7 linked regions of the Homo sapiens genome follow. The protein of the gene in region 4 purifies or fractionates together with the protein of the main gene of each other region. This does not show direct contact. Each region holds a gene or a part of one and is shown on either strand. Other genes may lie near its edges.

Region 1 (4,099 bases), on a different chromosome or scaffold from region 4:
TCTCTACTAAATATACAAAAATCAGCTAGGTGAGGTGGTGCATGCCTGTAATCCCAGCTACTTGGTAGGCTGAGGCAGGAAAATTGCTTGAACCTGGTAAGCAGAGGTTGTAGTGAGCCAAGATCGCGCCACTGTATGCCAGCCTGGGCAACAAGAGCAAAACTCTGTTTCAAAAAAAAAACAAACAAAAAAACAAATAAACAAACAAGATTGTCCTTGGTTTCCTTGAACTCCTACTGCAACAACACATGATTTACTTTGTTTTGTTTTTTTTTTTGTCATTTATTGACTGGTTCTAGGAAAGGAAAATGTAGAAATGGAATACTGAGCTTATAGCAAAACAAAAAAGACATAGGGTACAAAGGAGATTTGAATCTGCTCTACTTGGGAGAAATCAATGAAAAAAAATATTCCAAGAAATAAAAAAATTCAACTTTGTTTTTTTAAAAGAACCCTCTGCATAAAGTTCAGAGATCTTGCCTGCAGGAACAAAAAACACATAATAGAAAAATTGATTTACTTAGAATATAGACTATAGTTCATAATAAAAGCAGTCCTTATTTGGTAAACCTTCAATACGAGTACATCACCCTTGGTTATTTCTTTGCTCTTTCTCTCTTGGCATAAAAGAAAAAAAAAATTCATGCAAAATCCTACTAAGGCCCAATATGTACAAAATATCTTTTAAAAGTCCTATGTTGATATATTTGTGATAATGACAAACGATAAAAGAAGTCATACTACTGACAACCTTTGAAATTTTCATTTGTCATCTTTCACATTTTCCTCTAGCCTAGAAGCAAATCAGAAGAATTACGTCTGATAGACTTTCTCCAAGAATAATAATCAAGAGAAATAGCAATTCATAATAAACAAAGCATTTTCTTAGTTTTTAATGAAGAAAACTAAGAAAGTAATTTCAAAATTATTCAATAGAAAATCTTTAAAGATAAATGGACTACACACTGGTAGAGAAATGAGTTGTTCTGGCTAACACATTAATCTCTTAAACACCAAAGTCTTCAAACCTCTTTTGATGGAAAACTGTTTAAAATGTTATTTCAGGTCTTCGGAGTTGGGTGTAGGGGAAAAAGGTTATTTCATTTCCTTAGCAATTAGAATAAATGGACCTCTAGAGATATCATCTATGCTGAGTTTTATATGCAAAGCTGTTTGAATATGTATTTTTCTAGGAAGAAGGTAGGTCTTCTAATAGCTTTTAACAGAAATTTCAAAGGTATCTATGATCCAAAGTATTAGGAAGCATTGTGTCAATGGCATGAAGTGGTTCTCAATCAGCGCTTACAATTAAAAGCCTAAGATACAATTTGTAACTTTTTGCATAAATAAATCCCAGACAACAATGATTAAGGTGGGTGCTGGAATCAGATGCCCAGAATCTGAACCTCAACTCCACTACGTACTAGCTGTGTCACCCTGCCAAAGGACACTTCACTCCTCAACCTTAGTAGCCACATTTGGAAATCAGGGACAACAGTGTATTGCATGAGGCATAAAAGCAATGATACATGAAAAGTTCTTACATGCATTGTTGCTATAAGGCATAGAACTGATGATGCATGAAAAGTTCTTAATAAAATGCCTGGCACACACAGAGCTGAATAAATGTTAGCCTTTGCTAATATCTGACCTTGGTGAAGGCAGTTGACCTCAAGTGAAGGCAGAATGTGTGTGGCTGCAGAATCTTCTAGGTGTAGTTGCCTTTTTGTAAAGATAATCGGAAGGTCTTGAGTAGCTCCTTCTCCTAGTTTGTCTTCTTGTCCTTAATAAAGCCTTTCCTGCCTTTAACAGTAGTATTTCACATATTAACAATTCCGACTTGATAGTGAACACTTGAATCTGTATTAATTTCTGCCTCTGGAAAGGGGAAAATATTGATTCATTTGAATAACTAGTCAGTTTTAGACAGCGGCATTAGATTTAAGACTGTTCATGGTTATATTGGGGGAAGGACTTGGGGTAGAGCTGCTTCACTTTTCATTTTGTAACTTTCGTTACTATTTGATTATGTGAATCATGCATGTGTATTTTATGGGTTGCTGAGTACAAAATTTATGGGCTATTTATGAATCAATGTGCTCTAAAGTGATACTAGAGATTTTTCTCTTTATTACTTACATTGTAAAAGCCTAATTATTGGGTAAAATAAATAGAAAAGAAGAACAGTCACGTGGCAGAGACTAGTGTCTAGGATTTTTTCAACATCTACAGGTTAGTATTTTAGTTTTTAATGGTTACAGAACCCTTAGTATTTTTAACATAAGTAAATAAAAACCGATTTTCCTAAGCACTCTGAATTATTAACAGCGGTAAACCTAATTTCTTCCCACTATATGCCAAAAGTTCAGGCTCAATTTTTATTTCTTGTACTTAAACACTACAAGTTGTACTGAACTTTAATATATATTGGTGCTTAGGATCCAATTTTTGATGCCCTAATTCTTACAAAGTATACTTTGGATAATGAGTGAGCAGCTGTTTGTCTTCCTGCACGTGGGGCTTTACTGCCAAAAGCAAACTTGCTAAATGGATTCATACACGCAAGTGACAGAAAGACTGAAATCTGATGTACAGATCACTACCATTACCAAGCGTCTTCATTTTCTAGTATACTTTGGGAGAAAAGACGCATTTGGCTTCCATGAAATAAAAAGGCATAAGGGCAACACATTTCCGTATTTAAATAAGATGTATTAAAAACAACAACCTCGGGGCTAAGTGCTTTTAAAAGACACACAAATTACCTATCCTCTGACTGAACTTTCAGAAAAGTCCTAAATTAAATTCACCTACAAAGGTTATATTTTATCTGTGGCAGCAGATGCAGACACACAGCCACTTAAAAATATTAGAAACTGTGAGTTTATTAAAAGTTACCTAAGTTTTGATGGTTGTCAATTGAGCACAGCAAAATAAGTCAGAAACATTTTTTCCCCCAGTGAAGGCAGAGAAATATCTCATTTTAAATCAGTATCAGTGCTTTCTATAGTCTTCCCTTAAGCGCTAAACAATGACATCCCAGAGGCTGAGGGCGTCTTTAACACTGCATTGACTCCGGTCTTCCCTTGCATTATGTCATCAAGATTCCACTGTTTCCTTCTGGCATTTTGACTTTTAAAAACTAGTTACTGGATTAATATAGGGTACACTTTTTTGGGTACTAATATTTGTAATTAAAAGACTTAGGGTCAATGTATGAGAGAACTCCATCTACGGTCCATCAACTATATGTAAATTATGATAATTTTAGAAAATTTTATGATAGTAGCATCAGTGATAGGGAATTTTAATAGTTTTAATATCAAGACAACTGGGGGGGGGCAGACTGGAAGAGAAAGTTAATTGACTCCTACCATCAATAAATTGCTATTATCAATCTGTACTTTCCCTCCAAACTGACTTTAAAACAATAAACTTCCTTCTAAAAAGGTAGACTGGTCTCAGGCAGAACCATAGCAAATGAAATACAGATAATTTACTCTGGGAAAGTTAATAGAACAATCTTTGATAATATTTCCAAACCCACCAGAACTTTTGAACCAGTCTTCTCAAATCAGTCGCATATTCTCACACTATGCCCCTTTGCTGGAAATATTTTTAAGGCCTCACTTAAACTTCCCTTCAGATCCTTTAGCTTACCCTTTCAAATCCTTAACACAGACAAATCTAACGGCCTCAGGTACATGTAGTAACTGGGAAAAGAAAAGCACAAAAACAGTGTGTATTATTAAATATTTACTTGGAAAAAGTACACATCAGCCACCAAGTCTTATAACCATCTGTTTCCCTTAGAGATTATTGCTAGATTGTTGCTTTGCTTCAACCTCAAGAATTTTAATTTAGAAAACTCAGGGATAAGGTTGTTCTTGAGGGAAAATGAGATACAGAAAGCTGAAGGTTGGTAAAAGGGTGGAGAGAGGCAGATGAGGTTTTTTTTTTTGGCAAAGAACCAATGGGAGAGAAGACAGGTTAGTGGGGAGAGGTAAGAAGAACGTGTTAAAATATGTTTAAGAGGGAAAGACAGAATTTCATAGGGATTATCCAAAGCATTTAAAAAAATCTCAATCACCTAATATAT
Region 2 (4,099 bases), on a different chromosome or scaffold from region 4:
TTTTTTTTTTTTTTTTGCAGTAGGGTCTTGCTCTGTTGCCCAGGCTGGAGTGCAGTGACACGACCTCAGCTCACTGCAGCCTCAACCTCCCAGGCTCAAGCAATCCTCCCACCTTAGCCTCCCAGGTAGCTGGAACTACAGATGTGTGCCACCATGCCTGGCTAATTTTTTATATTTTTTTATAGAGATGGGGTCTTGCTATGTTGCCTAAGCTGGTCTCGACCACCTGGGCTCAAGCAATCCTCTTGTCTTGACTTCCCAAAATGCTGACATTACAGGTGTGAGCCACTGCACCTGGCCTGGGTCTTCATTTCTGAAGGCTCTGATCACTCAGGAAATTACAAGTGTTTTAGGAGCTCTGTGTAAGGAACCAGACAAAGACCAACTATCTATTGGACAAAGACCATATATGTATTTCTCATCACATGCTGTGTTTTATGTTTCTCCTCCTCAGGCAACACAGTGCTTCTCCTCATACTGTGCATGCAGCACTCCTTCCCAGAGCCTGGCAGATTGTATCTTGACCTCATTCTGGCCATCTTGGCACTGGAACTCATCTGTTCCCTGATATGTCTCCTCATTTACACAGGTGAGAATTACAACGAGCCTGTTCTTATAGGAACTTCGAACTGCTTCCTTTCCTCCCAGTTTAAAGTATAGCCCATTAGCGACAAGGAAGTTCTCTGTGTATCTGAGTGGTGACCACATGCAGACTTCTTTAATTTCAAACCAACAGGAAGGTACAGCCACCACCAGTGAGACCCCATTCTTTTAAGATTGTGTCATTAATAAATTTTTGTTAATGCAAGTGAAACTTTTCCATTAAAACAAGACACAAACTTTTTGGGCTGGGAATGGTGGCTCAAGCCTGTAATCCCAGCTCTTTGGGAGGATGAGGCAGAAGGATCACTTGAGCTCTGGAATTCAAGACCAGCCTGGACAACATGATGAAACTCCATCTCTACAAAAAATACAAAAAATTAGCCAGGTATGGTGGTGCACAAATGTGGTCCCAGCCCCTCAGGAGGCTGACGTGGGAGGATCACTAGAGCCTGGGAGACAGAGGTTGCAGTGAGCCAAGATCACATGCCTGCACTCCAGCCTGGGTGACAGAGTAAGACCCTGTCTCCTAAAACAACAACAACAAAAACATCCACAAACTTTTGCTTCTCTGAAGGCAGCTGAAATGTCAGCTTGCATTTAAAATTAAAAATTAAGAAATAGGCCAGGCACAGTGGCTCATGTCTGTAATCCTAGCACTTTAGGAGGCTAGCACTTTAATAGAGATGGGGTTTCGTCATGTTGGCCAGGATGGTCTCTAACTCCTGACCTCAGGTGATCCGCCCGCCTTGGCCTCCCAAAGTGCTGGGATTACAGGCATGACCCACCGCACCCAGCCCCAAATTGTATATATTCATCTGCTTAATGAAGTTTTCATCCACATGTCCCACAGGCACCAACAAGATCAGAAGTGAACAGAACATAATTTTCTTCAAAATTTCCCTCCATCCTAACCGTCCTCTTCTAGCTCAGTTAACAATACCAGCCTGCATCCACTTGATAAATCAGAATCCTAGAAACGTAGGAGTCATCTACCTTCTTCCTTCTACCTCACTCCCCAAGAACTGGATAGGATTGGTGATCAGTCAGTCATCAGTCTTATTCAGTCTACCTGTCTTTCAGCTCTGTCTCTTTTCTTTGGTCCCTGCCACTGCCTTGGTTAGGTACTCATCATCTCTTGCATGGCTACATCCAGGAGACACATAACAGGTCTCTTTCCCTCTGTCCACTGATTCATATTTCTTATTCCTGCCAACATGATCTTGTTTATACTTAACTCTGATTGTTAACAGCTTCCCTGCCCAGAGTTTTCTAATAGCTGAAGGAAAAAAAATCTAACGTTTTCATGTGGCATAAAAGGCATTTTCTTTATTTTTTTTTTGAGTTGGAGTTTCACTCTCGTCACCCAGGCTGGAGTGCAATGGCGTGATCTCAGCTTACTGCAACCTCCGCCTCCTGGGTTTAAGCGATTCTCCTGCCTCAGCCTCCTGAGTGGCTGGGATTATAGGCGCCTACCACCACACCCAGCTAATTTTTGTGTTTTTAGTAAAGACAGCATCTCATCATGTTCGCCAGGCTGGTCTCAAACTCCGGATGTCAGGTCATCTATCCGCCTCGGCCTCCCAAAGTGCTGGGATTACAGACATGAGCCACCATGCCCAGCCTGAAAGGTTCTCCTTGAATGGCCTCTACCTAGCCTGCTCTTCAGGGATGATGGTGAGATCCTTTCAAAGACTGCCAGTTGCTCTGAGGATAAAATCTAAATGTCTTAGGCCGGGCCTGGTGACTCACGCCTGTAATCCCAGCACTTTGGGAGGCCTCAGCGGGTGGATCACTTGAGGCCAGGAGTTTGAGAACAGCCTGGCCAACATGGTGAAACACCGTCTCTACTGAAAATACAAAAAAAATTAGCTGGGTGTGGTGGTGCACGCCTGTAATCCCAGTCGGGAGGCTGAGGTGGGAGAATTGCTTGAACCTAGGAGGCAGAGACAGAGGTTGCAGTGAGCCAAGGTTGTGCCACTGCACTCCAGCCTGAGCGACAGAGCAAGACTCCGTCTCAAAAAAAAAAAAAAAAAAAGTGTAAATGCCTTGCATGACACACCAGCCACTCCTGATGCATTCTCTGCCTATCTTCCCAACCCACCCCTTGTCCATACACCCTCACACCCATACATACGTGTAGCTTCTCAAGACCATAGCATTTGTTCAGACTCCTCCTGCACCTGAAGCACCCTTCTTTATTCTCCTAGTCTGTGTGATTAATTCCTGGGCTCAAACTCTATCCTCTTTTCCCCTCTCTGATACCTCCTGTTGAGTTAGGCACTGCTTTCCAGGCCAAAAAGCAGCTTGACAACTCCTTGTGCAAGCCTCTTGCACAAGCTTCTATTGAAGGTACTTTCCATACTGTCTTAGAATGTAGGATTATTATCTGTATTTTCCCCTGGACCAGAGGAAGTCATGATTTCTGAATTAGATGGCTGGCTGGTTGCTCAACTTCTCTGGGCTTCACTGCGGGGTAATAGGAGCATCCACTTCATGCAGGTGTTTATGAGAACTGAATGAGGGCATCCATGTAAAACATTTAAACTGTGCCTCATGTGTTCTAAGTGCACAATAAATGTCAGCTATTATTGCTATTTCAATACTAATGTAATCCCTATATTCCCAGGGCTTAGAACAGGCCTGGCACATAGTAGAATTTGAAATACTCAAGGACGTTAATAAGAACGGCAAATTAGCATAATTTGAAAAAATGAAACTAGACTTGTCTTTCAGAATTCGATCTAATAATGACTTTATTATTTTAGTGAAAATCCGGAGATTTAATAAAGCTAAACCAGAGCCTGATATACTTGAAGAAGAAAAAATCTATGCTTACCCCAGCAATATTACCTCGGAGACTGGATTCAGGTAAGATTTAGGTGAGAATAAAATAATTGAGTTTTTTCCCCTAGAAAGCTAGAAACCATTCTGATGCTTGGAATTTATGATTGTGTATTTGTACTTTTACATTTGTTTGATTTGTTTATTTCCTTTCAGCTGTGGTGAAATCAAGTCTAAATCAGGATGTGTAAATGTATTAAATAGGCCATATATTTGATGCAAAAAATTAACCACTTAGCCAACCTATTTAACCTCTCAAGAGCTTTTGACATCATTAACTGGTTACTCCCTCCTTGAAGCACCTTTTTTTATAGGTGTCTTTTTTTTTTTTTTTTTTTTGAGATGGAGTTTTGCTCTTGTTGCCCAGGCTGGAGTGCAGTGGCATGATCTTGGCTCACCGTAGTCTCCACCTCCCAGTTTCAAGCGATTCTCCTGCCTCAGCCTCCCAGTAGCTGGGATTACAGGCATGCACCACCACGCTTGGCTAATTTTGTATTTTTAGTAGAGATGGGGTTTCTCCATGTTGGTCAGGCTGGTCTTGAACTCCTGACCTCAGGTGATCCGCCCGCCTCAGCCTCCCAAAGTGCTGGGATCACAGGCGTGAGCCACCTCGCCCGGCCTGTTATTTTCTTTTTAAGGGATAGAGTCTCTCTGT
Region 3 (3,500 bases), on a different chromosome or scaffold from region 4:
CAGTGGCTAACACCTGAAATCCTAGCACGTTAGGAGGCTGAGGCAGGAGGATTACTTGAATCCAGACTGGGCAGCAAAGCGAGACCCCATCTCTACAAAAAATAAGAAAAAATTAGCTAGGCATGGTGGTACATGCCTGTAGTCCCAGGTCCTTGGGAGCCCGAGGCAGGAGGATTGCTTGAGGCCAGGAGTTCGAGGCAGCAGTGAGCTCTGATTGTGCCTCTGCACTCCAGCCTGGATGACAGAGCAGGACTCTGTCTTTAAAAAATAATAAATGAATGAATAAACAAAGACAGGCCTCTGTGCTCAAGAATGTATATTGTGGCATTTAGAATAGCTGAATATAATATAAAGAACTTCGATGTAAAAAAAAAAGTGGAATGGTTATAATTCCTCTCCATTACATAAGTTATGTACATTAATTATAGGAAATCCTAAAACCACAAAAAAGCACAAGGAAGAAATTTAAGATCACTGATAAACCTACCACCACTTGAACATTGTTATAAATTTTTTTAATTTTATACACAACACACACCCCTATATACGTACACATTTATTTGTAAAATTGGGATAATACTTTTTTACAACCCTTCTTTATGTAAGAATATATCACGGCCTTTTCCCTCATCATTAAATATTCTGCCACATTTTAAAAATTACTGCATAACATTCCATTATCTAAATACATCATAATTTAACCAGGCCACTCTCGTTGGATTTTTAGATTATTTTCGGTTTGTTACTATTATAATTAGCATATAGGGAGATAATTTTTTGCAATTTGTGATGGTTTCCTTAGATTAAAATTTAAATTCCTGGAAGTGCAGTTTCTGGGTGAGACAATCAATATAAGTATATTTTAAGGCTCTTGATTTGTAATGCCAACTTGCCCTCAAGAAAGTTAAACAAACTTAAATTTTATGGAAAGTTTTTAATAACATGGGGACATGCTTGTTACATATTAGAAAAATGCAGAATCAGGCCGAGCATGTTGGCTCATACCTGTAATCCGAGCATTTCGGGAGGCTGAGGTAAGAAGATTGCTTGAACTCAGGAGTTTGAGGTCAGCCCGGGCAACATGGTGAAACCCCATCTCTACAAAAAATACAAAAATTAGCTAGGCGTGGTGGCACACGCCTGTAAGCTGAGGTGGCAGGATTGCTTTAGCCTAGGAGGTTGAGGCTGCAGTGAGTCATGATCGCACCACTGCACTCTAGCCTGGGTGACAGGCTAGCCCTGTCTCCAAAAAAAAAGAAAAATGCAAGATCAAAATCCTGTAAATAATAGCGTTATTTTAACTGTGTAAAAAAATGTATAGAACAGGAAACTTTCCGAGGTAACTGAAATGTTCTGTCTTGATTGGAGTGGTGATTACATGGTTACATTTATCAAAATTCATTGAATTGTACATTTAAGATCTGTGCATTTCACTGCATGTAAATTTTATCTTAATTTTTAAAGATAAAATCTGTTCAACTATTTTGATTGGCTAAATATTTTGGCTAAGAGAAAACAGAAATTTGTTGGAGAGAAAATAGGAGATATGCCAAATGTTATAATGTTTTATCTTTGATTAGTGATTCTCTGAATGACTCTGAAAACTCTACATTTTCAGATCTGCTACAATGTGTGTATGGATATATATGTGTGTGTTTTGGTTTTATGAGATCAGTACAAAAATGCAGTCACCCAAAATGGTATTTACTTGTAAAATATGATATTGATGATCCCTTCATAATAACAGTACTGTGTCACATTTGTTAGAATTAGGGGAAAAGTTTTATTTTAAAAGAGGAGAGGAAAGCTTGCTGTTTCCTTTTCTGCCAAATTAAACTGAGAAAAAAGGTGGCTTATTCAGATTCTGCCACGCTCTGCTTTTGGAATCCCTTATGGCAGTGTGAAATCGTCATCTGCTAAGAATATCAACATTTTTACACACACACACACACAGAAGATTTCAATATAAGAAAACACAGAACTTTGTGAGAGTGCTGTTTTTCTTCTCTTGCTTTTGATCTATTCACAGGGAAGAAAGAAACCAGACCCAAGTGCTGAGACAACAGCAGGATGAGGCCTACCTGGCCTCTCTCAGAGCTGACCAGGAGAAAGAAAGAAAGAAACGGGAGGAGCGGGAGCGTAAGCGGCGGAAGGAGGAGGAGGTGCAACAGCAAAAGTTGGCAGAGGAGAGACGGCGGCAGGTAATGGACGTGTGGCTTTACTCCCTGTGGTTCCCAAACTGCCGAGACTTTGCCATCTTGGTCTTAAGTGTGAAAGGAAAAAATGATAGCCACCTTAAACAGACTAAGAGGGAAAAAAAAAAAGGAAAAAGGAAAGAAAAAATTACAACATGTTGGAATTAGGGGTGATTTAAATTTTTCATACCATTTAAATATTCATTCTTTTTTAAATAAAAATTTAAAAAAAGAGACGGGCTTTGCCATATTGGCCAGGCTGCTCTCGAACTCCTGACCTCACATGATCTGCCTGTCTTGGCCTTCCAAAGTGTTGGGATTACAGGCGTGAGCCACCATGCCTGGCCCTAAATATTCATTCTTAATACCAGTATTAGCTGATTTGGCATTTTACTCATTATCTTTTTGTTTTTGTTTTGTTTTGTTTTGTTGTTGTTTTTGTTCCCTAGCAATCAGACTGAGATATACATTATCTTATTTGATTATGTATTACCGCTTACCTATAACCAGTGTCTTTTAGTCATTTCCTTTTATTTCTTTTTTTTTTTTAAGAGACAGGGTCTCACTGTGTTGCCCAGGCTGGCGTGCAGTGGCTATTCACCAGTGCAATCATGGAGCACTACACCCTGAAACTCTTGGGCTTAAGAAGTCCTGCTGTGGCCTCTGAAGTAGCTGGAACTACAGGCACATACCATGGCACCCTGCTCCCTTTCTCCTTTTTCTCAAATAAATACCTAGACATAATAAAGAATACATGAGATGCAATTGTACTTTAAATTTAGGTTGTTTTTGACTATTCCTGAGAGGTTTTTCTTAGAATACTTAGTCATTAATTTTTCTTCTGACGACTGCGTAATAAAGCTACATGGTCATTGTATTTATTTCTTGAGCTGTAGCCTCACCTTTGCTTTGTGTCTCTGCAGAATTTACAGGAGGAAAAGGAAAGGAAGTTGGAATGCCTGCCCCCTGAACCTTCCCCTGATGACCCTGAAAGTGTCAAGATCATCTTCAAATTACCTAATGATTCTCGAGTAGAGAGACGATTCCACTTTTCACAGTCTCTAACAGTAAGGACCACCTAAGTTCTGTGAAGTGTATGTAGCATCTGGGCTATAGATTTGGAGCTTTTACTGACTCTTGAGAGTGGTGTTGGTGTATCTGCTGCTCTGATGAACAGGGAACAGAGAGAGAGAGAGAGAGATGGGTATGCCATCCGTGGACACCAGGAAGAGTACCGAGGACTGCTGTAGGCTCCTTCAGTTCTAGTTTCCAACTCAAAGCAATTTTTAAGTTTTTGTTTAATTA
Region 4 (4,619 bases):
GACAGGGTTTCTCTCTGTTGCCCAGGCTGGAGTGCAGCGGTCCAATCAGAGCTCACTGCAACCTCTGCCTCCCGGGCTCAAGCGATCCTCTCACCTCAGCCTCCCGAGTAGATGGGACCACGGGAACACGCCACCACAGCTACTTTTTAATTTTTTTGTAGAGACAGGCTGACCAGTTTCTTTTTACTTATTTTTATGTGGCTGATAGAAAATTGAAATTCTCACGTGTGGCTTCCACTGTGTTTCTATCCAACTAAAGAACCTGTCGCATTTTGTCAGCTCTCAACCACCCCCTACCACTGTCCTTATAAAAGAAATAAAAATAAAGCAGTGGCTGCCTCTTACCTGTGGCAGTAGTGACAGTCCCCACAGAGCTATTTACTCCGTCTTTCTCCACCCACACAGAACACGTATACAATGACCCGGGTCCAAGGCCATCCACGGTGACGTTGGTGGCTGTTGTGTTTCGAGTCTCTGTTGTGCCGCCGTCTCCAGTACACTGAACCCAGTAGTTGGAGTTCTGTGAGTCTAGGCCATCGGGGACCTCCCAGCTCAGGGAGATGGAGCTGGTGGTCTGAGTCTCCACTGTCAGGTTCCTCCCTGGGTTGGGGGCTGAGAATTGGGAAGGAAGGTCTGACAAAAAGGGAACCAGGTCAGTACAATCCCTCCCAACCCCTGAGCTCACGCCCCAAGTCCAGAAACAACGGCGCTCATAAACCCCTACCATGGACCACTGGACCCCACGGGGACCCCCCAGAGGCTCACGGCAGTTGCGGTCCCACCTCTTCGAGTGGGCAGTGAGTTCAGGCAGGGGTCACTCACCAGGCGCCCTGGCCCCTGTCCAGCTGCACAGGCCCTGGAGGGAACCCAGAGAAAACGGAGTCAGCCTCTCAACCACTCCTCCGCCCAGTGAGGCCGAGGGGCTGGGAGGAGCGGCTGGTCCCCGCCCCATGAGTCACCCTTGCATGGGAAGGAGGGGCCGGTGTTAGGCTGGGCTGTCACGACCTCGACCGTCTTTCCTGGGTCGAGGAGAGAAGGGGGAGCATGGCAGGAGCAGAGCTTAGGGAGCTGGGGTTGGCTCCACCCGATAAGGCTGAGAGATAAAATTAATGATTTCATTTCCTGAAATATATGTCCTTGGAAAACCGAGGGCAGAGAGCAATGAACAGACTGGGAAGGGAGAAAAAAACCAAGGTTGGGGATCAGGAACCTTGGCCTGAGGGTGGAGGGCCTGGGGGCCTGGGGGCCTGGGTCTGAGGGAGGAGGGGCTGGGGGTCTCGACCTCTGGTTTGAGGGAGGAGAGGTTGGGGGCCTGGACTCCTGAGTCTGAGGGAGGAGGGGCTGGGGTCTGGACTCCTGGGTCTGAGGGAGGAGGGGCTGGGGGTCTCGACCTCTGGTTTGAGGGAGGAGAGGTTGGGGGCCTGGACTCCTGAGTCTGAGGGAGGAGGGGCTGGGGGTCTGGATTCCTGGGTCTGAGGGAGGAGGGGCTGGGGGTCTCGACCTCTGGTTTGAGGGAGGAGAGGTTGGGGGCCTGGACTCCTGAGTCTGAGGGAGGAGGGGCTGGGGTCTGGACTCCTGGGTCTGAGGGAGTAGGGGCTGGGGGTCTGGATTCCTGGGTCTGAGGGAGGAGGGGCTGGGGGTCTGGACTCCTGGGTCTGAGGGAGGAGGGGCTGGGGGTCTCGACCTCTGGTTTGAGGGAGGAGAGGTTGGGGGCCTGGACTCCTGAGTCTGAGGGAGGAGGGGCTGGGGTCTGGACTCCTGGGTCTGAGGGAGGAGGGCCTGGGGGCCTGGGGGCCTGGGTCTGAGGGAGGAGGGGCTGGGGGTCTCGACCTCTGGTTTGAGGGAGGAGAGGTTGGGGGCCTGGACTCCTGAGTCTGAGGGAGGAGGGGCTGGGGTCTGGACTCCTGGGTCTGAGGGAGGAGGGGCTGGGGGTCTGGATTCCTGGGTCTGAGGGAGGAGGGGCTGGGGGTCTGGACTCCTGGGTCTGAGGGAGGAGGGGCTGGGGGTCTCGACCTCTGGTTTGAGGGAGGAGAGGTTGGGGGCCTGGACTCCTGAGTCTGAGGGAGGAGGGGCTGGGGTCTGGACTCCTGGGTCTGAGGGAGGAGGGGCTGGGGGTCTGGACTCCTGGGCCTGAAGGAGGAGGGACTGGGGGTCTGGACCCCTGAGTCTGAGGGAAGAGGGGCTGGGGGTCTGGACTCCTGAGTCTGAGGGAGGAGGGGTTGGGGGCCTGGACTCTTGGTTTGAGGGAGGAAGGGCTGGGGGCCTGGACTCCCGGGTCTGAGGGAGGAGGGGCTGGGGTCTGGACTCCTGGGTCTGAGGGAGGAGGGGCTGGGGGCCTGGACTCCTGAGTCTGAGGGAGGAGGGGCTGGGGTCTGGACTCCTGGGTCTGAGGGAGGAGGGGCTGGGGGTCTGGACTCCTGGGCCTGAAGGAGGAGGGACTGGGGGTCTGGACCCCTGAGTCTGAGGGAAGAGGGGCTGGGGGTCTGGACTCCTGAGTCTGAGGGAGGAGGGGTTGGGGGCCTGGACTCTTGGTTTGAGGGAGGAAGGGCTGGGGGCCTGGACTCCCGGGTCTGAGGGAGGAGGGGCTGGGGTCTGGACTCCTGGGTCTGAGGGAGGAGGGGCTGGGGGCCTGGACTCCTGGGTCTGAGGGAGGAGGGGCTGGGGTCTGGACTCTTGGTTTGAGGGAGGAGGGGCTGCTTCCTGTCCGTGAGCACAGCTGTGTGTTGCCTGAAGCCAGTGTCCCCCGCAGCAGACACGACAGTGTCTAAGGGCCCGGGTGAAGCTGGTGTCCCCCACAACAGACACGACAATGTCTAAGGGCCCGGGTGAAGCTGGTGTCCCCCGCAGCAGACACGACAGTATCTAAGAGCCCAGGTGTAAGACTCTCCTACAGTCTCTGCCAAGCCTGAAGCCCTCTTCCTTCTCCAGGGGATCTTCAGCACCTACTTCCTCAAGATCGAGGTGCAGGCACCCAGCTCCTTCTCCCTCAGACCTGGGAGTCCCTGCCTTGGGAGCCCGCTCTGGGCGGGGAGCACTTACCAGCAGCACCAGGTTCCCCCAGACCCCGAGGCCCCCGCCAGCCCCAGCCATGCCTCCAGACACTGCCGGGGACCCAGGAGTCCCAGGCCTAGTCCTTCCACCTGCTGGACTTTACACTCAAGAATTTCCCCTTTACCAGATCATTGGTGAAGCCAGAGGCCAGGGCGGGAAGGGGAGGAGGAGGAAGTGGAACCCAGCTCCCAACCCTGCCCCGCTGGCCCTCACCTTCCTCCCTCACCGCTGCCTCTAGCTCTGACACTGGAGATGCCTCCCATCCTTTCTCCAGCCCCCAGCCCACTCCACTTTGTCCCCCGAAATCTCCCTCTGCACCCCAGGTACCGGGTGCCGCGCCCCACTGCTGCACGGATGCGGGACGTGGGGCAGAGGATGAGAGCAGGGGGTGCTGAGAGAAAGGCCAGCTGACTCCCTCGCCTCCCTGGTGGGTGATCACACATCAAGAGCAGCCTGGGGCTTAGACCTCATGCCCCTCGTCCCTGGAGCACGCTCTTCCATTCAGCCTCTGACGCCTTTCCCCTCTCCGTCTCCCACAAGCCCCTGCAGCTCTCACAAAATGAGCCCAGCGGGCTCCTGCCTCTTGGCCTTTGCCTAGACTGTCTCCCCCACCAGATGCACCTGCCTACTTTCCCCCTAACAGTCTCCTACCCACTGCTCCATTAGGATTCAGCTTGGAAATGACCCATGCCGGGCCTGGGGCCTTTCTAGCCTGGTCAGGACCCTGTGCACTGTCTTCCACACCCCAGACTCTCTAATTTGCATATCCATCTGTGACCCTGAGCAAATGACTTAAATCCACAGTGACTCAGATTCCTCATCTCTAAAGAATGGGCACCCTTGTAAATATGCTAAGAGAAATAGATGAGTTACTACGTGGAAAGTCTTGGAACAATGCCTGGCCCATTTTAAACAGTTGATAAATATTAGTCATGTTTATTTTTAGTTCATCCCTAGGCCACCTGTGCTCAGAAGGGGCCTGACACCCAGGGCTTTTCAAGGTGTTTTTGTTGACTTACTATGTGCACACGTGGACTGCCTTCATCTCACATATAGTGCGGAAATGAAGAATAGAAACCCCAGCCGGGCATATTGGTGTGTGCCCAGCTACTCAGGAGGCTGAAGTGGGAGGATCACTTGAGCCCAGGAGTTTGAGACCAGCCCGGGCAATATACAAAACCCCATCTTTACAAAGAAAAACAAAAAGAGAGAAAAAATTACCCAGGCATGGTAGTGCACGCCTGTAGTCCCAGCTACCGGGAGGCTGAGGTGGGAGGATCACCTGAGACTGGGAAGTCAAGGCTGCAGTAAGCTGCGATTGTGCCACTGCACTCCAGCCTGGGTGACAGAGTGAGCCCCTGTCTCAGAAAGCAAAACAATGGCCAGGCGCGGTGGCTCACACCTGTAATCCCAGCAATTTGGGAGGCCGAGGTGGGCAGATCACCTGAGATCAGGAGTTCGAGACCAGCCTGGCTAAGATGGTGAAACCCCATCTCTACTAAAATGCAAAAATTAGCTGGCTGTGGTGGCAGGCACCTGTACTCCCAGCTACTCAGGAGGCTGAGGCA
Region 5 (4,099 bases), on a different chromosome or scaffold from region 4:
AGTGCCAGGCTGGGGCCTGGGGGTTTTCTGTACATTGTCCTTTAAATTTTCTTAGCAGTGGTCCTGAGAAGTGTCATCAGTTCATTTCCATAGATAAAGAAACAGAGGCCTAGATGAATTCAGCAGCTGCTGGGCCATTCTGCTCACTAATGGCCGAGGTCAGACCCAGGCCACTGGGTCCGCCTGACTCCAGCGTGCAGGTGCTTTCTGCTGATCCCCAGAGCGTGCAGGTGCTTTCCGCTGATCCCCAGAGGAGACACTGGCCAGGGCTCTTTTTTCCGAGACAAACTTCATTCTGGAAAGGCTGTCAGACCGGGCGCGGTGACTCACGCCTGTAATCCCAGTACTTTGGGAGGATGAGGTGGGCGGATTGCCTGAGCTCAGGAGTTCGAAACCACCCTGGGCAACATGTTGAAACCCCGTCTCTACTAAAAATAACAAAAAATATTAGCCGGGTGCGGTGGCTAACTTAGATCCGTAACTGCTCAACTTGAGACATGCAACATATGTCCTTCCCACCTTTTGTCACTCAGGTGGAACAGAGGCTGAAGTTGTTCAAGTTGGCGTCTGAGAAGCATCAGCATATGTATCGCCTCGCCATGACCGGCTCTGGGATCGATCGTCACCTCTTCTGCCTTTACGTGGTGTCTAAATATCTCGCTGTGGAGTCCCCTTTCCTTAAGGAAGTAAGTCTCTTCCACTTCTTCCGTCAGTTGTATTGGCTAGACCAAAACTTAGTAAATTACTACAGCCTTGCATGAACATATTTTAATGTCAGAATGGGCATTTGAAAAAAACGGGTCTGTGGGTGTAGCTGTCATAAAATGGAAAATGTGAGCAGCGCGTTTAGTACTGCATTTCTTCAAAAACTTCGCTGTCACATGTAGCCCCTGACTTAATAGACCCGAAGACCTCGAGAGCTTACGTCACAGTAAGACGCACGGAAGTAACTAGGGAGTGATGAGCTGTGAGCGCGTACCACCTTTGTTTTAAAAATCCTTTATTTTATTGTAAGTTTATGAAATATATTATTATTGTTTTTTGAGACAGGGTCTTACAGTGTTGCCCAGGCTGGGCTCAAACTCCTAGACACAAGCAATTCTTCGTCCTTAGCCTGCTGAGTAGCTGATGTGCACCACTGTGCCCAGCTCAAATTTAATTTAAGTTTTATTTATTTATTTATTTATTTTTTATTTTTTGGAGATGGAGTCTCGCTCTGTCACCCAGGCTGGAGTGCAGTGGCGCCATCTTGGCTCACTGAAACCTCCGCCTCCCGGGTTCAAGCTATTCTCCTGCCTCAGCCTCCCAAGTAGCTGGGATTACAGGCACACGCTGCCATGCCTGGCTAATTTTTTTTGTTGTTGTATTTTAGTAGAGACGGGGTTTCACCGTGTTGCCCAGGCTGGTCTCGAACTCCTGAGCTCAGGCAATCCACCCGCGTCGGGTTCCCAAAGTGCTGAGATTACAGACATGAACCATTGCGCCTGGCAAATTTAATTTTTAATAGTGGCTGTATTTAATAGCCAGCTTGAAAATTCTCTGAAAATATGGCAGCTGGCTCGTGGGAGTTGGTACAAGTCTGACACCTCTGTCCCCGTTCCGAATCTTACTCCATATATCTGTTACCTTCACTGTCTGAGATGCTATTTGCTGGTATGCCCCCACCCCCACCCTGCACTCCCTGCCCCAGTCTGGGGGCCCCACCCACCCCGCATGCTCTCTGCAGATACGCTGCCCAAGCCAGTGAGGCCTTTGGAGACATAGACTTGTGGTGTGTGGAACAATCAAAAGACCAAGCCAGGCTTTTCTCGTCTTCCCAAAGCGACTCCTGAGGGACGGTAGAGGAGGGGATTAGGAAACATTTCCCTGTTTCACTCAATAGGTTTTATCTGAGCCTTGGAGATTATCAACAAGCCAGACCCCTCAGCAGCAAGTGGAGCTGTTTGACTTGGAGAATAACCCAGAGTACGTGTCCAGCGGAGGGGGCTTTGGACCGGTGAGTGCGGCGGGGCTGGGCGAGGCGCAGTGGGGCGTGGTGATGGGATGGGTAATGGGGTGTGATGGGCCCATCTCCGTGCTGGGTGCCCCCGTTACCTTGCGGTTCTACCGCCGTAAAGGAATTACTGCTGATCATTGCTATGGATGTCCTTGGCAGTCTTGCACTTATTTTTTATTTTTTTGAGACAAGGTCTCGCTCTGTCACCCAGGCTGGAGTGCAGTAAGCATGATCATGGCTCATGGCAGCCTGAATCTCCCCCATCTCAGGTGATCCTCCCACCTCCACCTCCTGAGTAGCTGGGACTACAGATGCATGCCACCATGCCCAGCTAATTTGTGTGTGTGTGTGTATTTTTTTGTAGAGACAGGGTTTCACCATGTTGTCCGGGCTGGTCTCGAACCCCTGGGCTCAAGTGACCCGCCTGCCTCAGCCTCCCAAAATGCTGGGATTACAAGGAGAAGCCACCGAGCCCCGCCAGTGTTGCATTTAGAACATTAGAAAGTCCCTTTTTCACGTTGTCTCATTTCCCAGCAACAAATTCAAATTCCCTTGTCCTCCAGGTTGCTGATGACGGCTATGGTGTGTCGTACATCCTTGTGGGAGAGAACCTCATCAATTTCCACATTTCTTCCAAGTTCTCTTGCCCTGAGACGGTATGTATGAAAAGAAGTTCCTTTTTCTGAAGATGGGGTATTTTTGCTTTATTCTTTTTAAGGAAACACATCTTTAATTTGACAGAAAAAGTCAATTCAACTGCCTGCTTTTACTTGATTTCGGGAATTTTCACATAAATGGACTGCTTTTAAAAAAAAATTTTTTTTTTTTTGGAGACACAGTCTCACTCTGTCGCCCAGGCTGGAGTGCAGGGGCGAGATCTTGGCTCACTGTAACCTCTGCCTCCCGGGCTCAAGTGATTCTCCTGCCTCAGCCTCCCAAGTAGCTGGGACTACAGGCACCCGCCACTACCCCGGCTAATTTTTTTGTATTTTTAGTAGAGACAGGGTTTCACCATGTTGGGCAGGCTGGTCTCAAACTCCTGACCTCAGATGATCCACCTGCCTCGACCTCCCAAAGTGCTGAGATTACAGGCATGAGCCACCGCGCCTGGCCTAAATTTTTTTAATTAAAAAATTGTTTGTACAGACAGGGTCTCCCCACATTTCCCAGGCAAGTCTTGAACTCCTGGGCTCACGCGATCCTCTTACCTCAGCCTCCCAGTGTTGGGATTACAGGCTTCAGCCACTGTGCCCAGCCATAAGTGAATTTCAAAATTCTCTTTACCTAGTTTTAAACAAATGTATCTCAGCCAGGCACGGTGGCTCACACCTATAATCTCAGCACTTTGGGAGGCTGAGGCTGGCCAATCACTTGAGGTGAGGAGTTTGAAACCATCCTGGCCAACATGGTGAAACCCCGCCTCTACTAAAAATACAAAACTTAGCTGGTGTGGTGGCACACGCCTGTAATCCCAGCTACTCAGGAGGCTGAGGTAGGAGAATCGCTTGAACCCGGGAGGTGGAGGTTGTAGTGAGCCAGGATCATGCCACTGCACTCCAGCCTGGGTGATGGAGTGAGACTCCGTCTCAGAAAAAAAAAAAAAAAAAAGGAAATGTATCTAATTTGGTTTAACATGTTTACCTCTGTTGGCAGCAATGGTTTTGAAGCTTAACGTTGGAGTGCTGCTGTAACTTTCAGACTCTTTAGCACTTGGAAGATGAACTAAAAATAATGGGTACACACTAAGAAATCTGCATACAGAGCAGGGGACCCCCGGCTTCCTCTGTGGATGGAACAAGGGACCTCCTCCCTAGCATGGCACATTGCCCTTATTTATATTCTGCTTTCCTTGTCGTACATAGCCTGGCAACCCATGCCACTGTCGCTGTTAACAGAGGAAGTTGGGGTTTATTTGTTCACTGCGGTTTTCTTTTGTTGTTTGTTTGTTTGTTTGTTTTAGACAGGGTCTCACTCTGCCACCCAGGCTAGAGTGCAGTGGTGTGATCTCGGCTCACTGCAGCTTCAGCCTCCTGGGCTCAGGGGATCCTCCTACTTCAGCCTCCTGAGTAGCTGGGACTATAGGGGAGTGCCACCACACCTGGC
Region 6 (3,599 bases), on a different chromosome or scaffold from region 4:
TTGTTTGGGGACATGAGAAATAGTGTCTTCAAAAGCACTGAGGTGAGAGACATCTGGTATATTCAGGAAAAAGTGAGAAGTAGAGAATATGGAGGAGAATAGTGAGAAATGAGACTAGAGAGGTAAATAATTGTCAGGTCCCAGAGACTTTGATTACCTTGCAATTATGTAATAGGCAACCATGAAAGTTTCCTATTACAAATGGAGTAAATTGGAAGTATACATGGAAATCTTAAAAATTCTTATCCAAATTCTACAAATGGAATAAATTGGAAGTATACACAGAAATATTTACAGTGGGAACTACAAGTGGATTCATGTTTGATTTTCAACATAAAATGGAATAACCAAAAACAAGACTCATTGCAAGTACCGGTTTACCAGCAACAATTTGAGATTCCTTGAAATACAGCTGCTTTGCTGGGTATCTGTGGGAATGACGGACTTCAGGGTGCTTGCTGTATGGTGAACTGAACTTGAGTGAATCTTAGCAGCCTCAGTAGAACAATAATTTTAAGAGTGTATTAAAGAAGAGCTTCAAACAATATAGTCCAAACTGAACCTCTAGGGAGCCATAGCAGCCTGACATGTAGTAATCAAAAAATCTTTGAGCAAAATCTTCTGTAGAATATTAGTTACATAAAGCCAACATGCAAATTGTTCTCAGTCCTGAAAATAGTGGTTACAGCCACAACCTAAAGACAAGTTCTATTTTTATATATTGTGAATAGTATGGCTTATGCCTAAACCGTAGACACACAGGTCTTGTTCTCACGCAAAGGGTGTATATGCTCATATGTGCTTACAACAAGGAGCAAGGATGGGTCACTGGTGGGAGGAGGGGTTGGGTGGTATATATAGAATACAGGAGAAAACCTCCATGATTTCTGACTTTACTAGCACTCCTGCTAAAGTAGGATAGCAACACTCACCTTTTAGAGACCTACACATTACAAAACCGAGCTTACAGAATGCACACAATAAATTTAAAAAAAATTTTTTAAAGCCAACAGGCAAAAATATGTCTATCAAATAACTCACGATGTTAGGAACAATCAACAGTTGTAAAAAAAATTTTTTTTCTCTACACTAAACAAGTGAATGTTTGCTTTTTTTTTTCCTTTTAAATAAATTATAGTTACTGATTGTGTTCATATTATACATAGTGGGATCAGAGTTGGAGGTTTTTTATAAATTCTATTGTTGTGGTACATTTTAATTTACTAAACTGAGTATACATATTCTTGGTAACTTTCTACCACCTCTAAAAATGAGTCTTTGACAGAATATATTGTGCAAAAAAAGATGATAGGAATTTTCTGTATAAATAGGGTGTTTTATCTCCATATACTGTTCTTTAACATAAGAGACCTTTTTTATTTTGCTCATAGTATGTTTGAATGTTTAAACATTTAAGTATTAAATCATGAACTCTATCTTATTCTTTAACTTTCTAGAGTCTTAAAAGCTGATGATGCCTTTAGGACTGAAAATTTTAAGGCTTTAATAAATGCTGTCAGACATGTTCAACAGCTACTATAAACCTTCTCTTAAACAGTTAAAACCACAGTTCTGACCCAGACCCACACAATATAATTAAGGCAGTTATTGGAGTAAGCTAGATTTGAAGTTAACGTAATTTCAGCCTATCATATTTTATACCCACACTTTTGAGGGACATTTGAATCTAGTGAGCTCTGAAAATATACAAGATATAGAAGTGCATATTGAGAGATAAATTTGAGTATATCTGTTAATGTTTATGTCTTAAGATTACTTTCCTTAAGTCTTTTAGTTCTTTTAATTCACCTTTCTTCCAGTAACCTCTCTGTTTGGCTCTTCTTTCCCAGATATCCCCCTTTGCTAGCCATTCCTTTAAAGGAGCAGTTAACCTGTGTGTAACCCAGATGCCTAATAGTTTAGGATGGGTGAAACTAATGACTCCCGGGGAACACTGGTGGAGTCCTGAGTCCCACATCCTCCTTACAAGCGGCTGTAAGAGGAGCATGCAGTAGGAACATATATGAACACCAGAGGATGTTATAGTGGCGTTGTCCAAACTTGAGTGGAGCAATTGACAGTTCCACATCTAGGTTTGTCAACAACAAATAACAGTTGGCTATACATATCTACTCTGAGTAGTTTAAGAACATTTTCTTTGGAGAGTGATTGTTCAGTTGTTACATAATCTCTAACTCACTGATTCTAAAAATTTTCAGATTAAATTAATGGGCATACCTGGAAGAAAAATAGCTATAGGTTGGTTGTCAAATAGATGGTGATTAGAATACTATTGGCGATTGATTTTTTTACTTGATATGAGTAAAGACCAGAATACAGAATAGTACATATAATAGGATATTCCATGGCAGATGTGTTTTATATGGTACTTTCAACTATTTGCCCCTGAGCTAGAGTATGAGTTAGATGTTTCTAAAAAGATCAAGTCTAACATGAATATATATATATATATATGTGTGTATACAGATCTTTAATAATATTTACTAAATGTTTTTATTTTTATTTTTTTTTTTAGACAGAGTCTCGCTCTGTCACCCGGGCTGGAGTGCAGTGGCACCATCCCGCTCACTGCAACCTCTGCCTCCCTAGTTCAAGCAATATTCATGTATCAGCCTCCCGAGTAGCTGGGATTACAAGTGTGCACTAACATGCCCGGCTAATTTTGGTATTTTTAGTAGAGATGGGGTTCCACCATGTTGGCTAGGCTGGTCTTGAACACCTAACCTCAAGTGATCCGACTGCCTCAGCCTCCCAAAGTGCTGGGATTACCGGTGTGAATGACTGTGCCCGGCACTAAATGCTTTTATGAATCCAGAAACTGTGCCCCCAGAGAGCTTATGATTTGATGAAGATAGGTCAGAGTATGGGCAGTATAAAGGAGTATAGTATAAAAAAATAAAAAGGAGCATTGGCAATTCAAGGTGGGATGAAATTGTGGAGGATTTTTTCTTTTCTTTTTTTTTTTTTTTTTTTTTTTTTTGAGATGGAGTCTTGCTCTGTCGCCCAGGCTGGAGTGCAATGGCGCAGTCTCGGCTCACTGCAAGCTCCGCCCCCCGGGTTCACACCATTCTCCTGCCTCAGCCTCCTGAATAGCTGGGACTACAGGCGCCTGCCACCACGCCCAGCTAATATTTTGTATTTTTAGTAGAGGCAGGGTTTCACTGTGTTAGGATGGTTTCGATCTCCTGACCTCGTGATCCACCTGCCTCAGCCTCCCAAAGTGCTGGGATTACAGGCGTGAGCCACCGTGCCCAGCCTAATTGTGGAGGATTTTTAAAGCTAATAGATTAGACTTAATGTAAGAACCAAGTACTTGCTGTACATTTCAGACCAGGCAGATAACATAAAGAGAGTGGGATTTTAAAACATTAATCTGATCAGAGCCAGGCACGGTAGCTCACACCTACAATCTCAGCAACTCAGGAGACTGAGGCAGGCGTTCAAGACCAGCCTGGGCAACATAGTGAGACCCTGCCTCTAAAAAATTTTTTTAAATTAGCCAGGCATGGTAGTTGGAGGCTGAGACAACAGGGTCATTTGAACCCAGGAGTTCAAGGCTTCAGTGAGCTATGATTGCA
Region 7 (4,099 bases), on a different chromosome or scaffold from region 4:
GCGTTTTGGGAGGCTGAAGTGGGTGGATCACTTGAGGCCAGGAGTTTGAGACCAGCCTGGCCAACATGGCAAAACCCCGTCTCTACTAAAAATACGAAAATTAGCCAGGCGTGGTGGCCTGCGCCTGTAGTCCCAGTTACTCAAGAGGCTGAGCCATGAAAATCGCTTGAACCTGGGAGGTGGAGGTTGCAGTGAGCCGAGATCGCACCACTGCTCTCCAGCCTGGGAGACAAAGTGAAGCTCTGTCTCAAAAAAAAAAAAAAAAAAAAAAAAAAAACTCTGTGAGATAAAATTCCTTAAAAATCATTACATACACCTATATGTATAAATTATATGCACATTTATAGACCAGAAATACACCAAAACGTTAATGCTGAGAAGTAGTTTAAATTTTCTTTTCTAAACTCTTCTGTTTTCTGAATTCCCTAAAATAAATGTGTAACACTTTATAACCAGAAAAAAAATCAAAAGATTAAGTTCAATGTTAATAAATTAAAAGACAAATATTAAATTAACATTTTCTCCACAAGTATTCCTACTGAAGTAATGATGCCAAATTAAGACATAAACTCTTAAAAAAAAAATCACTGGGCTTTGGTATTACTCATTAAGAAATAGGACTATTTCTTTTTTTAGAAGTACATACATTCAAGCATTCTGTCTGCAGTGTGTTAAAATACACAATAGATTTACATGCTGATTAGACATCTCAATATTTTACTATGAATTTAAACTTCACTGAAAAAAAGGAAAGAGGGCTGGGCATGGTGGCTCATGTCTGTAATCCCAACACTTTGGGAGGCCGAGGCGGGAGGACTGCTTGAGCCTGGGAGTTCAAGAACAGCCTGGGCAAAATAGCGACACCTCGTCTCTACAAACAATAATTTTTAAAATTTTAATTTAATAATTTTTAAAAATTAGCCAGGTGTGGTAGTGTGAATCTGTAGTCCCACCAACTCGACAGGCTGAGGCAAGAGAATCACTTAAGCCTAGGAGGTCGAGGCTCCAGTGAGCTGTGATTGTGCCACTGTACTCCAGCTTGGTTGACAGAGTGAAACCCACTACACTTTTTTTTGCAAAAAAAAAAAAAAAAAAAAAAAAGAACCATGAATCATCAAAAGCATTATGACTGAAATAATAAAGGGCTAAAAAAATCCCAAACCTACCTTCCTTTTGTTGTGATATGTAATGTAAACAACAGCAATGCAAAAAGCAAAAATAATAAGATGAAAAAAGAAATGGCTGTCTTCCTCTTCTATATTTGAGGATGGCATCTTAAAAGATTTCACTGACTGTTCAATTTCCATGTAACCCCTGTTTTCTTCCAAGGTGTCATCAGACTCGTCGTCGTCCCTGGGGCCCGTGGTCCAGTCATAGTCTGGTTCTCCATAATCGCCATTGTCTAGAGTGTCTTTGGCTGTGGATGGAGAACTGTTCAGCATGAGAAGATCCTCCTCCTCTATACTAGGATCTTCATTGTTATCAGCTTCCTCTTGAGACAGAGGAGTAGGCGAGGGATGAGGGACCACAGATGCTCCTCCACTTTTCTTGGTACTCGTCGTGGGAGGGAGGGTGGTGCTGATTTGGGAAATAGAAGGTTTGGTTTGGTTTTCATGTGTTAAAGCATTCACATTTGGGGTAGAAATATGTGAGTTGAGTACGGTTGGGCTCGGTGAATCAGTCCGTGATACAACTGAAACAAACAAAGAATATCAAACTGAAATCTCCAACTTTATCTCCACCAAGCTAAAAGCATATTTACCCAAATTTTACACTAAGCATTTCTCTCTGCTACATTCCTATAACTTTCTCGAAAACTAGTTATTAAGTCTCAATAGCCAGCATTCAGTTACATTTCTTCTTAGTCAGTTATTCTTCAGATAATAATTGCTTTGCTAGATACTAACAATTTAAGCAGCATAAAAGACCTACTGCATCATACAGCCTGCCACCAAAAGAAAAGAAAAAGGGCTGACTTTAAGTCACGATGGCAAAGTTCACATACAGCCCTCACCCATCCCCTCTGTTTTCATTTCATAAAGGGTGTGGATTTCAGTTACCTTGTCCAGACTTTACCTGATCCCTAGAACAGACCAAAAAGTGGCTGATTCTCACTCAAGTAGGTCCCAAAAAAGATATGGAGTTTGGACCTAAATACTTTCAACACAACATAACAAATTCAGGGGAAGCTATAGGCATGCTGTAGATAGTAATTCTAAGTGATACTTGAACTAGAGGACTCCCTCTCCTAAATTCAAAAAAAAAGAAGGATCCTTACAAAGAAGAAAAAACTTCTAAAGGAGAAGCATCCGAAACGGGAACCTGAGAGCTAAGTGACAACTAGACTATTTTGAAGATGAGGGAAGGCATCTAGGTATAGCAAATGACACCAAATACACACACATTCTTATTTCCCTGTGCTGCTACCTACTCAGCATAGTTTACTAAAGGTAAAATTCTTTACATAAGAATTCTTACTATTCTTTTACCAAGAAGAATGAATAGAGGAAGATTCCAGAGGAATCCCTGCCGAAATTTAACCATCTCTAATTTATAATCTAATGTAGTATCTGTTGAAGAACTTCAAGGACCTCTACTACACTAAAAAAATAAAAAAAAAAAACCTCTGTCATGTAGATCTAAACATATTCAGACAATATTTTAAAGTCTATCACATTAAAGTAAAATATTTTATAGGGGTAAGATTAAACCAAGTCATTCTAGTGCTTTCACAAACATGTGCATTCACACAAGTTAACAATCCAACAGACAACCCTTTCTTCATGTGAATACACTCTGGTTTGTGTACCACAGTTGACATCCATTTTGTGTAGAAAAAAAAAGAAATAGCTGGTGTCAATTAGAATGAACAGAGGATCTCAGAAAAATAATGTAGTCAGTTAGTAAAAAAAAAAAAAAAAAAAAAAAAAAAAAAAGGCCAGGCCCTGTGGCTCACGCCTGTAATCCCAGCACTTTGGGAGGCCGAGGCAGGCTGAACATGAGGTCAGGAGCTCGAGACCATCCTGGCTAACATGATGAAACCCGGTCTCTACTAAAAAATACAAAAAATTAGCCAGGCATGGTGGCAGGCACCTGTAGTCCCAGCTACTCGGGAGGCTGAGGCAGGACAATGGCGTGAACCTGGGAGGTGGAGGTTGCAGTGAGCCGAGATGGCGCCACTGCACTCTAGCCTGGCCGACAGAGCAAGACCACATCTCAAAAAAAAAAAAAAAAAACCAATAAATTAGTAAAACTCTCTTTTTCCCTTTTTTTTTTTTGACAGGGTCTCACTCTGTTGCCCAGGCTGAAATGCAGTAGCACAAACATAGCTCACTGTAGCCTCGACCTCCTGGTTTCAAGCCCCCCATGTAGCTGGGACCACAGGCACATGCTACCCTGCCTGGCTTTTTTTATTTTTCATATATTTGTCCAATGCCATATGCAATTTTTTTTTTTTTTTGAGACAGCATCTTGCCATGTTGCCCAGGCTGCTCTCATATTCCAGGGTTCAAGAAATCCTCCCACCTTGGCCTCCCAAAGTACTGGGATTACAGTAAAACTCTTAAAACATTTTCAATAATTGAGTTCCTTGAAATTTTTTACTGGAAGAAAAGAGAAATAAACAGGACCTACAACTCAGTACATTACTCAGAAAACTACTAACAGGAATTTCTGAAAATAATTTTTGCATTTATCACTTCAACTTAGTTATAATTCAAGAATTTAAAAATTATTATTTTCTGATACATTTAATTTTCCTGCCAAAGTACAAAAAACATGTTTTAAAATAAAATTTAAAATTGAAATAAGTGGGAGCCAACTAACTAAACTTAACTTTTAAAAGAACAATTTTTCCATGGGTAAGTACCTTTAAAGGACACAAGCTGATAGGGTGGGAATAATTATAAAGAAATTTCCACCACGCAGTATAGAATTCACAGTCATCAGCAAATCCCTTCTTTCACCCTTTGCTTTCTTGTTATTACTGAAACCTGACTCTCCCTTAAGGACACATTTTCCTTTCAGCCTGTTTAAGTAATAGCTGTTTTTTCTCCCACATCCTTGAACCACTGAATCTCAAGGAGGCACAGTTCTCCTC

What was found.
Region 1: the proteins of PTPRH (region 4) and GLUD1 purify together in Homo sapiens (affinity purification with mass spectrometry, with the first as the bait; one large-scale study listed by BioGRID). This does not show direct contact.
Region 2: the proteins of PTPRH (region 4) and TMEM192 purify together in Homo sapiens (affinity purification with mass spectrometry, with the first as the bait; one large-scale study listed by BioGRID). This does not show direct contact.
Region 3: the proteins of PTPRH (region 4) and FAF2 purify together in Homo sapiens (affinity purification with mass spectrometry, with the first as the bait; one large-scale study listed by BioGRID). This does not show direct contact.
Region 5: the proteins of PTPRH (region 4) and CPT1A purify together in Homo sapiens (affinity purification with mass spectrometry, with the first as the bait; one large-scale study listed by BioGRID). This does not show direct contact.
Region 6: the proteins of PTPRH (region 4) and NGLY1 purify together in Homo sapiens (affinity purification with mass spectrometry, with the first as the bait; one large-scale study listed by BioGRID). This does not show direct contact.
Region 7: the proteins of PTPRH (region 4) and C5orf15 purify together in Homo sapiens (affinity purification with mass spectrometry, with the first as the bait; one large-scale study listed by BioGRID). This does not show direct contact.

What each region holds. Positions count from the first base shown.
Region 1 is NC_000010.11:87,087,911-87,092,009, forward strand, and holds part of GLUD1 (glutamate dehydrogenase 1, mitochondrial isoform a precursor), read right to left. Parts: intron 3,714-4,099; exon of another isoform or gene 1,652-3,713; intron 1-1,651. UniProt on the Homo sapiens protein: Mitochondrial glutamate dehydrogenase that catalyzes the conversion of L-glutamate into alpha-ketoglutarate. Plays a key role in glutamine anaplerosis by producing alpha-ketoglutarate, an important intermediate in the tricarboxylic acid cycle.
Region 2 is NC_000004.12:165,084,958-165,089,056, reverse strand, and holds part of TMEM192 (transmembrane protein 192), read left to right. Parts: intron 1-454; coding exon 455-589; intron 590-3,368; coding exon 3,369-3,471; intron 3,472-4,099.
Region 3 is NC_000005.10:176,496,885-176,500,384, forward strand, and holds part of FAF2 (FAS-associated factor 2), read left to right. Parts: intron 1-2,029; coding exon 2,030-2,201; intron 2,202-3,118; coding exon 3,119-3,262; intron 3,263-3,500. UniProt on the Homo sapiens protein: Plays an important role in endoplasmic reticulum-associated degradation (ERAD) that mediates ubiquitin-dependent degradation of misfolded endoplasmic reticulum proteins.
Region 4 is NC_000019.10:55,206,344-55,210,962, forward strand, and holds the start of PTPRH (receptor-type tyrosine-protein phosphatase H isoform 1 precursor), read right to left. Parts: upstream 3,159-4,619; 5' UTR 3,091-3,158; coding exon 3,040-3,090; intron 1,072-3,039; exon of another isoform or gene 953-1,071; coding exon of another isoform or gene 857-952; coding exon 823-856; exon of another isoform or gene 725-822; intron 634-724; coding exon of another isoform or gene 613-633; coding exon 346-612; intron 1-345. UniProt on the Homo sapiens protein: Protein phosphatase that may contribute to contact inhibition of cell growth and motility by mediating the dephosphorylation of focal adhesion-associated substrates and thus negatively regulating integrin-promoted signaling processes.
Region 5 is NC_000011.10:68,758,122-68,762,220, reverse strand, and holds part of CPT1A (carnitine O-palmitoyltransferase 1, liver isoform), read left to right. Parts: intron 1-533; coding exon 534-686; intron 687-1,882; coding exon 1,883-1,996; intron 1,997-2,559; coding exon 2,560-2,652; intron 2,653-4,099. UniProt on the Homo sapiens protein: Catalyzes the transfer of the acyl group of long-chain fatty acid-CoA conjugates onto carnitine, an essential step for the mitochondrial uptake of long-chain fatty acids and their subsequent beta-oxidation in the mitochondrion.
Region 6 is NC_000003.12:25,721,151-25,724,749, reverse strand, and holds part of NGLY1 (peptide-N(4)-(N-acetyl-beta-glucosaminyl)asparagine amidase), read left to right. Parts: intron 1-1,850; coding exon of another isoform or gene 1,851-2,015; exon of another isoform or gene 2,016-2,073; intron 2,074-3,599. UniProt on the Homo sapiens protein: Specifically deglycosylates the denatured form of N-linked glycoproteins in the cytoplasm and assists their proteasome-mediated degradation. Cleaves the beta-aspartyl-glucosamine (GlcNAc) of the glycan and the amide side chain of Asn, converting Asn to Asp.
Region 7 is NC_000005.10:133,958,328-133,962,426, forward strand, and holds part of C5orf15 (keratinocyte-associated transmembrane protein 2 precursor), read right to left. Parts: intron 1,694-4,099; coding exon 1,167-1,693; intron 1-1,166.